Linked DNA regions of Homo sapiens. The protein of the gene in region 1 purifies or fractionates together with the protein of each later gene. This does not show direct contact. Each region holds a gene or a part of one and is shown on either strand. Other genes may lie near its edges. The genes, in order: CYBA and DERL1.

The links.
Region 2: the proteins of CYBA (region 1) and DERL1 purify together in Homo sapiens (affinity purification with western blotting; one study listed by BioGRID). This does not show direct contact.

What each region holds. Positions count from the first base shown.
Region 1 is NC_000016.10:88,645,104-88,648,053, reverse strand, and holds part of CYBA (cytochrome b-245 light chain), read left to right. Parts: coding exon 1-9; intron 10-878; coding exon 879-953; intron 954-1,215; coding exon 1,216-1,299; intron 1,300-1,856; coding exon 1,857-1,938; intron 1,939-2,624; coding exon of another isoform or gene 2,625-2,888; exon of another isoform or gene 2,889-2,950. UniProt on the Homo sapiens protein: Subunit of NADPH oxidase complexes that is required for the NADPH oxidase activity that generates, in various cell types, superoxide from molecular oxygen utilizing NADPH as an electron donor.
Region 2 is NC_000008.11:123,032,038-123,035,855, reverse strand, and holds part of DERL1 (derlin-1), read left to right. Parts: intron 1-3,818. UniProt on the Homo sapiens protein: Functional component of endoplasmic reticulum-associated degradation (ERAD) for misfolded lumenal proteins. Forms homotetramers which encircle a large channel traversing the endoplasmic reticulum (ER) membrane.

The DNA.
Region 1 (2,950 bases):
CTACTCCATGTATCCTTCCACCTGAGGCTGGGGTGGGCGGGGAACGCCCAGGGCAGAGCTGGGGAGCCACTTCACAGTGAGCTGTTTGCCTCCGCTCCCCACCACCGCAGCCAGGCTGGGACACAGGGTGGGCTGTGCACGGGTTGGGCAGCCCAGGCCCCAGCAGCCAGGCCCCTCGCCAGGACCATGTGGCGATCAGCGGCAGACCCGCCAGTCTAAGTCCTGGTGAGTGGTGGGCAGGGGGTGTCACCAGAGGGCCAGGGCCAGCACTGAGGCCTCCCTGTTGGACTGCTGGGATCCCCTCTGCCCGCTCCTGTCAGTCATCCCCCTTGACCGGCCCCTCTACCTCCTCTGCCCCATCTCAGCCCTGCCGCCCAGCCGGACCTTGCGACAAGGAGCACTGGGCAGGGTGGTGGGAGGGAGGGCGTGGGCAGCCCCGAGTGCCAGACCTGTTGGAACCTCCCGTGGCTGCCTCCTGGCTCTGTGACCTCAGGCAGTGGCTGCCCCCGACCTTTTTTGAGACAGGGTCTCGCTCTGTCCCCCAGGCTGCAGTGCAGTGGTGCAGCTGTGACTCATGGCAGCCTCCACCTGGGCTCAGGCCACCCTCTTACCTCAGCCTCTGGAGTAGCTGGGACCACAGGCACACACCACTGCACCTGGCTTTTAAATTTTTTGTAGAGATGAGGGTCTCACTATGTTGCCCAGGCTGGTCTCAAACTCCTGGGCTCCAGTGATCCTCCCGCCTCAGCCTCCCAAAATGCTGGGATTCCAGGCATGAGCCACCGTGCTCGGGCCCCTCTCTGTGTTGTCTTCAGTAAAGGGAGTTCCCTGTGGCCCCTCAGGCTGAGCTGGGCTGTTCCTTAACCACATGGCTTCAGTGTGGCGGGCGTGTTTGTGTGCCTGCTGGAGTACCCCCGGGGGAAGAGGAAGAAGGGCTCCACCATGGAGCGCTGGTGAGTCTCCTCCTGCTCTGGGGTCTCTCCGGGGGCTGCGGGGCCCAGGCAGGGCTCACAGGGTTGGGTGGAGCTTGGTTTCTCACTTGGAGGCTCCGGAACCAACCCTTTGGTGCTTGTGGGTAAACCAAGGCCGGTGCCTGCCCGGTGTGTTTTGTGGGAGGAAAGAGGCCTGGGTGCCCTGGGGTGGTCAGCAGGGCAGCAAAGGAGTCCCGAGTGGGAGAGGCCCAGCCGCGCCGTCTCGCCTTCCTCCCTCCCCCAGGGGACAGAAGTACATGACCGCCGTGGTGAAGCTGTTCGGGCCCTTTACCAGGAATTACTATGTTCGGGCCGTCCTGCATCTCCTGTGAGTCCCCGTCCCGCACCCCCTCTAGGGCTCAGGAGGGCTTGGAGCCGACCCTCCCCACTGTCCCACCGGCCGGGCTGCCTGGACAGGAGCCACCCCCACTTACCTCAGTGTTTTTCCAAACAAAAATTCGGGTCCCTGGCTCTGGCAGGGCCTGTGTCTGCTGTCTAGTGTGCAGGATTTGTAAGGATCCACTCCAAATCCGAGGAGCTCCGATCCGTCGCCAGGGTCTGGGGTCAGCATGCACTGCTGGGGGGTCTTGCCTGGGCTTCCTGGTAGGGTGGAGGGTTCCGTGCTGTGTGTCTGCTGGTTACTGCCGGCTGAGGCCAGGACACCCACACGTGGCTGCTTCCTCCGAGCAAGTGCACCAGAGCCGCTAGTGTCCACATCAAGGCTGAGAACACCCAGGACCGAAACAAGCCCCGGTCCGCGCACGTCCCCTGGGTCTGCAGTCTGCCTTGTCCTGAGACTTTGTGGCCTTGGCCCCCAGACCTGGGGCTCCGTTCCCCTTTCTGAGTGCCCTTCTGTGTCCCTGCCTCTCACCCGCTGTCCCCCAGGCTCTCGGTGCCCGCCGGCTTCCTGCTGGCCACCATCCTTGGGACCGCCTGCCTGGCCATTGCGAGCGGCATCTACCTACTGGTGAGTGGCGCCCTCTGAGGTCGGCCCCGGCCACCCCCATCCCCAGCCCCTGCCCTGACACCCTCGGACACGCATGGCCCTTGAAGCCGGCTCTGTAGGCTGAGCCAAGGCTGGGAGCAAGTGTGAGCCTGGGCGTGTGCTCACAGCACGGCGGGGACGCAGCGGTTGCTGCTGCCATTTTTGGCGTGTCTAGTGTGTCGGGTCATTTCCTTGCATTTCCTCATTAACCCGCACCACAGCCCTGGGAGGGGTACTGGGGTCCCCACTTTACAGACAAAGATGCGGAGGCTCAGGGAGGTGCTGTGACTGGCCTGGGGTCACGCAGCCGGCCGAAGACCGTGCCTGCGCTTGGGTCCCATTATCAGGCTTTTCTCACCTAAACCCTATTCGCGCTGATTCATGGGCGGTGCCAGGACGCAGACATTTTCTTAAACTGCCGACACCTGCGTTTGGTTTATGACTGCTGCACCCTGTTAGAAGGCTGCCCATCCCATGGGATACAGTGATCTCTCTGAGAGGCCAGGGATGGGTGGGAGGACAGGGCGCAGCCTGGCCAGGCCTTGGGTGAAATGCCCTCTGCCTGCCCTGGGCTCCGGAACAGACGGCTGCAGGCCACCTCTCACTGCGGGGGTCTCTGGGTGGACAGAGCCCTCAGACTTTGCTTATTTAAATCCTTTTGTCCATAGAGCCAAGTCCCTCCTGCCCGCAGAGGCAACTGCCCTCCCCTTGCTGTGCGTCTTCTAGTGTGTGTGCGTGGGAAAGGTGCAGCACTTTCTGTGTACGCCTTCCGCGTATGGAAGTGGAGTTCTGTTTCAAGCCTCACTGACCTGCCACCGGCAGAACTCTCCTTTAGAACCCCTTCCTGTTGCCAAGTGCTCATCTGGGCTGTTGCTTTGTTTTCCGGGGGCCACCCGCATCCCCCCCGTCTCCCTGCTGCCACGCACAGCTAGTGGCTCCTGGAGACCTCGGGAGGAATTCCTTGTGCTAAACCCAGAGAGGAATTGCTGGGTCA
Region 2 (3,818 bases), on another chromosome or scaffold:
ACTAGATTCTGGATGGCAAATTATTTCAGTAGCAGATTGTTTAGAAGATTTTAGCTAAAGGATGGCTGCAACCTACACTCTGAAGTTGTTGGACTAATAACTGAGGAACAATGTCTTATGTCTTCTTTAAGGGTGTATATAGCAGTGAGCACATGGGCTACATGTCCTTGTTAAGTGAGGAACTCTAATTAGGGCCCAGCTTTCCTCCTGAAAAAACTGGGATCATTATGGGCCTGGCCTTGAGGTTGCTGTGGACTTAAAATGAGATACTCCCCCACGAGTCCTCTCAGTAAGTGTGAGGCAGGCAGTCCTCTGTCTGCAAGTCGTGGCTCTTTGTGCTGCAGTTGGCTGCCTCTTAGGCTTTCCAGGGTTGAAAATGGGCCTCTTCACTCCTGGCACTGAACGTAAAGCCAGTTCCTTCTCCTTACTGTTTACATATCAGGTCGAGGAAAAAATGGGATTTAGTTGGATACTTACAATGGGGATTTCCGAAATATGTTACACTGTGTCCTTCTAAAGAGATAAGCTGTCTTCTGGTGTTTTCAGATTATAATTTTAAAGTAACACAAAAATAATATTAAGTCTTTTAGATCAATGAAAGCAAGTATAACTCAAGGGTAGGCTTAATGAACAGGGAAAAGAAGTGAGATATTTTGACAGACACTGATTTCCAAAGAACAGGTGCAAACAGTGACTAAAAATAGTCTTATGTCATCAGCATTAGAGAAAATGTAGTCAGACAAAAACAAGGTTTCTTTTCCAAAACCAGGCCTTGAGTAACTTATAGGAATATGGGGGTAGTTGAAATATGAATTTATAAAAACTGGTTAGCGGGTGTTTCCGAAAAGATTGTGATAATACAATTAACACACCCACACATATTAATTCTTTTTGCATAGTATCTTTTTAATTCACTTTCTTAATTCCAACCTTTTACAAATCCTGTAAGATAAGGAAGGCAGAAGTCATAGGATAATGTCATTGGGTAGATGATGAAGCCAATTTGACGTCCATACTTTTCCAAGGGTCCAGGGCTACCTAGAGGGTTTGCTTCTGGTCTTTACTCCCAGTCCTTTTCTTAAGCACAGAGAATTAATTAGTAGGTTTACTCTGAGTCTATTTCAGGATTACACAAGTGTCTGTAGTAGTGAACACTTACACTAATTGTAATTGTACCTCATAATACTGACGCCATTTGTGAGAGGGATTGTAAAAATAGGGGCTTAGTATCACAAACTCTGGAGTCAGACTGTCTGGGATAAAATTCTAGCTTCACCACTTACTGGCTGATACTTAACCTTTTCTCATCCTGTTTCCTCATCTATGAAATCCGTCTCCTGAATCAGTGCGTGTAAATAAGCTGAGTAGCACATTAATTTATTGATTTCTTTAAAAAAATTAACTATGGAAATTGAGGCTCGGAAGTGGTGACTTATAAGCAAAAACTTAAACCCAGGTCTTCTCAAGTCATCTCCAGTTCCCTTTCCACTAAACTATCCTGTTTCTGTGATAAAGTTGTGAATGAATCAAACCAAATGTTAAACTATTTTATTTTTCTGGTTTAATACACGTTTCTTGGAAAGTCACTTTTTTGGTATGCACATTGCATTTCCCTCTACAAGGAATTAAGCTCTGAGGGTTACATTCCTGTACTTGGAGAATGGAACTGGCCAGTCTGTATGTGGCCAGTCCCCGTGACTGACGTCCTCCATTCCAGCCACACTTGAATTGTTAGCAGTACCCATTCAGTTATTGTGCTCTTGCAATTCTTGGGGCCTTTGTAACAAGTCCACATGTCCCCTCCCTTGTGCCAACCCTTTCTTCCTTTGACAGCCTTCCCCACTACTCTGAGGAATTCAGGGGCCATGTCTTTTGTGCTTGGTACATGCTAGTGTGCAATGAGATAGACACATATCTCTCACACCAAAAGCCAGCATTTTGCTGCCATTTCCAAAAGTTTAGGAAGGCCATCTGCTTCAATCACTATTTAGCATTGTTCTGGTGGGGGTGCCAGCCAGTGAATTAGACAAGAATGAAATAAGATACAAAAGTTTATTTACAGCTAGGGTTGTATGCTTGGAAAGCCCAAGAAGCTCAATTTTCTTTTTTGTTAAGACATAGTTTCGCTCTTGTTGCCCAGGCTGGAGTGCAGTGTTGTGATCTCGGCTCACTGCAACCTCTGCCTCCTGGATTCAAGCGATTCTCCTGCCTCAGCCTCCCGAGTAGCTGGGATTACAGGCATGTGCCACCACGCCCGGCTAATTTTGTGTTTTTAGTAGAGACAAGGTTTCTCCACCTTGGTCAGCCTGGTCTCGAACTCCCGACCTCAGGTGATCTGCCCACCTCGGCCTCCCAAAGTGCTGGGATTACAGGCATGAGCCACTACTCCCGGCCGAAGCTCAATTTTCAATATTGTAGGCAGTAAGATACTCAGCTTTTGTGGTTAAGTATAAAAAGGTAGAAAGAGATAGCTCTATAGACAACTCTAAAAGCTATGAAAAACTTCTTGGCTGGGAATTATATCAATATCACATGGATATAATAAAAGAATGGTTCTAATTCATTTAGAAAAATAAAATATTGAGACTAACCAAGAAAATTGTGACAATTGTTGAAGAAAAAAAGGGGGAGATATTATTTAGCTGTTTAACTTTACCAGCTATTAAAATATGTTATAAAAGGAATAGAAACTAGGCTAGGCCCAGTGGCTCATGCCTATAATTTCAGCACTTTGGGAGGCTGAGGTGGGAGCATCATTTGAGGCTGGTAGTTTGAGAGCAGTCTGGACAACATAGGAAGAGCCCGTCTCAAAAAACAAACAAACAAAATTACCAGGTGTGATGGTACATGCCTGTAGTCCTAGCCACTTGGGAGGCTGAGTGGAGAATTGCTTGAACCCAGAAATTTGAGGTTACAGTGAGCTGTGGTCAAAACACTGCGCTCCAGCCTGAGCAACAGACTGAGACCTTGTCTCAAAAAAAAAAAAAAAAAAGAAAATAGAAATTAAAATAACTTGATATTGGCATAGGAACCAATTCCAAACAGAATGGTGTTAAAATAGACCTACATGTAAAAGAGACTAGAGTATAAACGTTCAATGAAAGTAGTTTTTCAAATAATTGGAAAAAATGTGGGTTACTCTGTAAATGGGGTTGGGAAAACTGGGTGACTATTTAGAAAAACAGTTGGATCTCTTCCTCATTCCTTGGATGCACCTTGAAAGTGCTAAAATAAAACCATGAACACTTACATTCTTGGAGCGAAAAGACTTTCTAAACATGACACATCATGGATACATATGCCTACATTTAATTAAACTTTTGTATGTCAAAATATGGCAAAAACACCATGAAAGTCTAATGACATCAGAAAATGCTTGCAATGATGAGAAAGAGAAATTTCATAATGTATGAGGAAATGCAGCCAGGTGCGATGGCTCATGCCTGTAATCCCAGCACTTTGGGAGGCCAGGACAGGTGGATTGCTTGAGCTCAGGAATTTGAGACCAGCCTGGGCAACATCAGGAGACCCTGTATCTACAAAAAATATAAAAATTAGCCAGGTGTGGTGGTGCATGCTGGTAGTCCCAGCTACTTGGGAGGCTGAGGTGGGAGAATCACCTGAGTCCAGGAGGTGGAGGTTGTAGTGAGCTAGGATCATGCCACTGCACTCCAGCCTGGGCATCAGAGCAAGATCCTATCTCGGGGGGGAAAAAAAAAATGTAAATCCAGAAAAACAAATGAATAAAGGAAATGCTCAGGTTTTTAAAACGTGAAAAGGTGCTTGACTTCTCATAATGCAAATAAAAATTAGTTTTC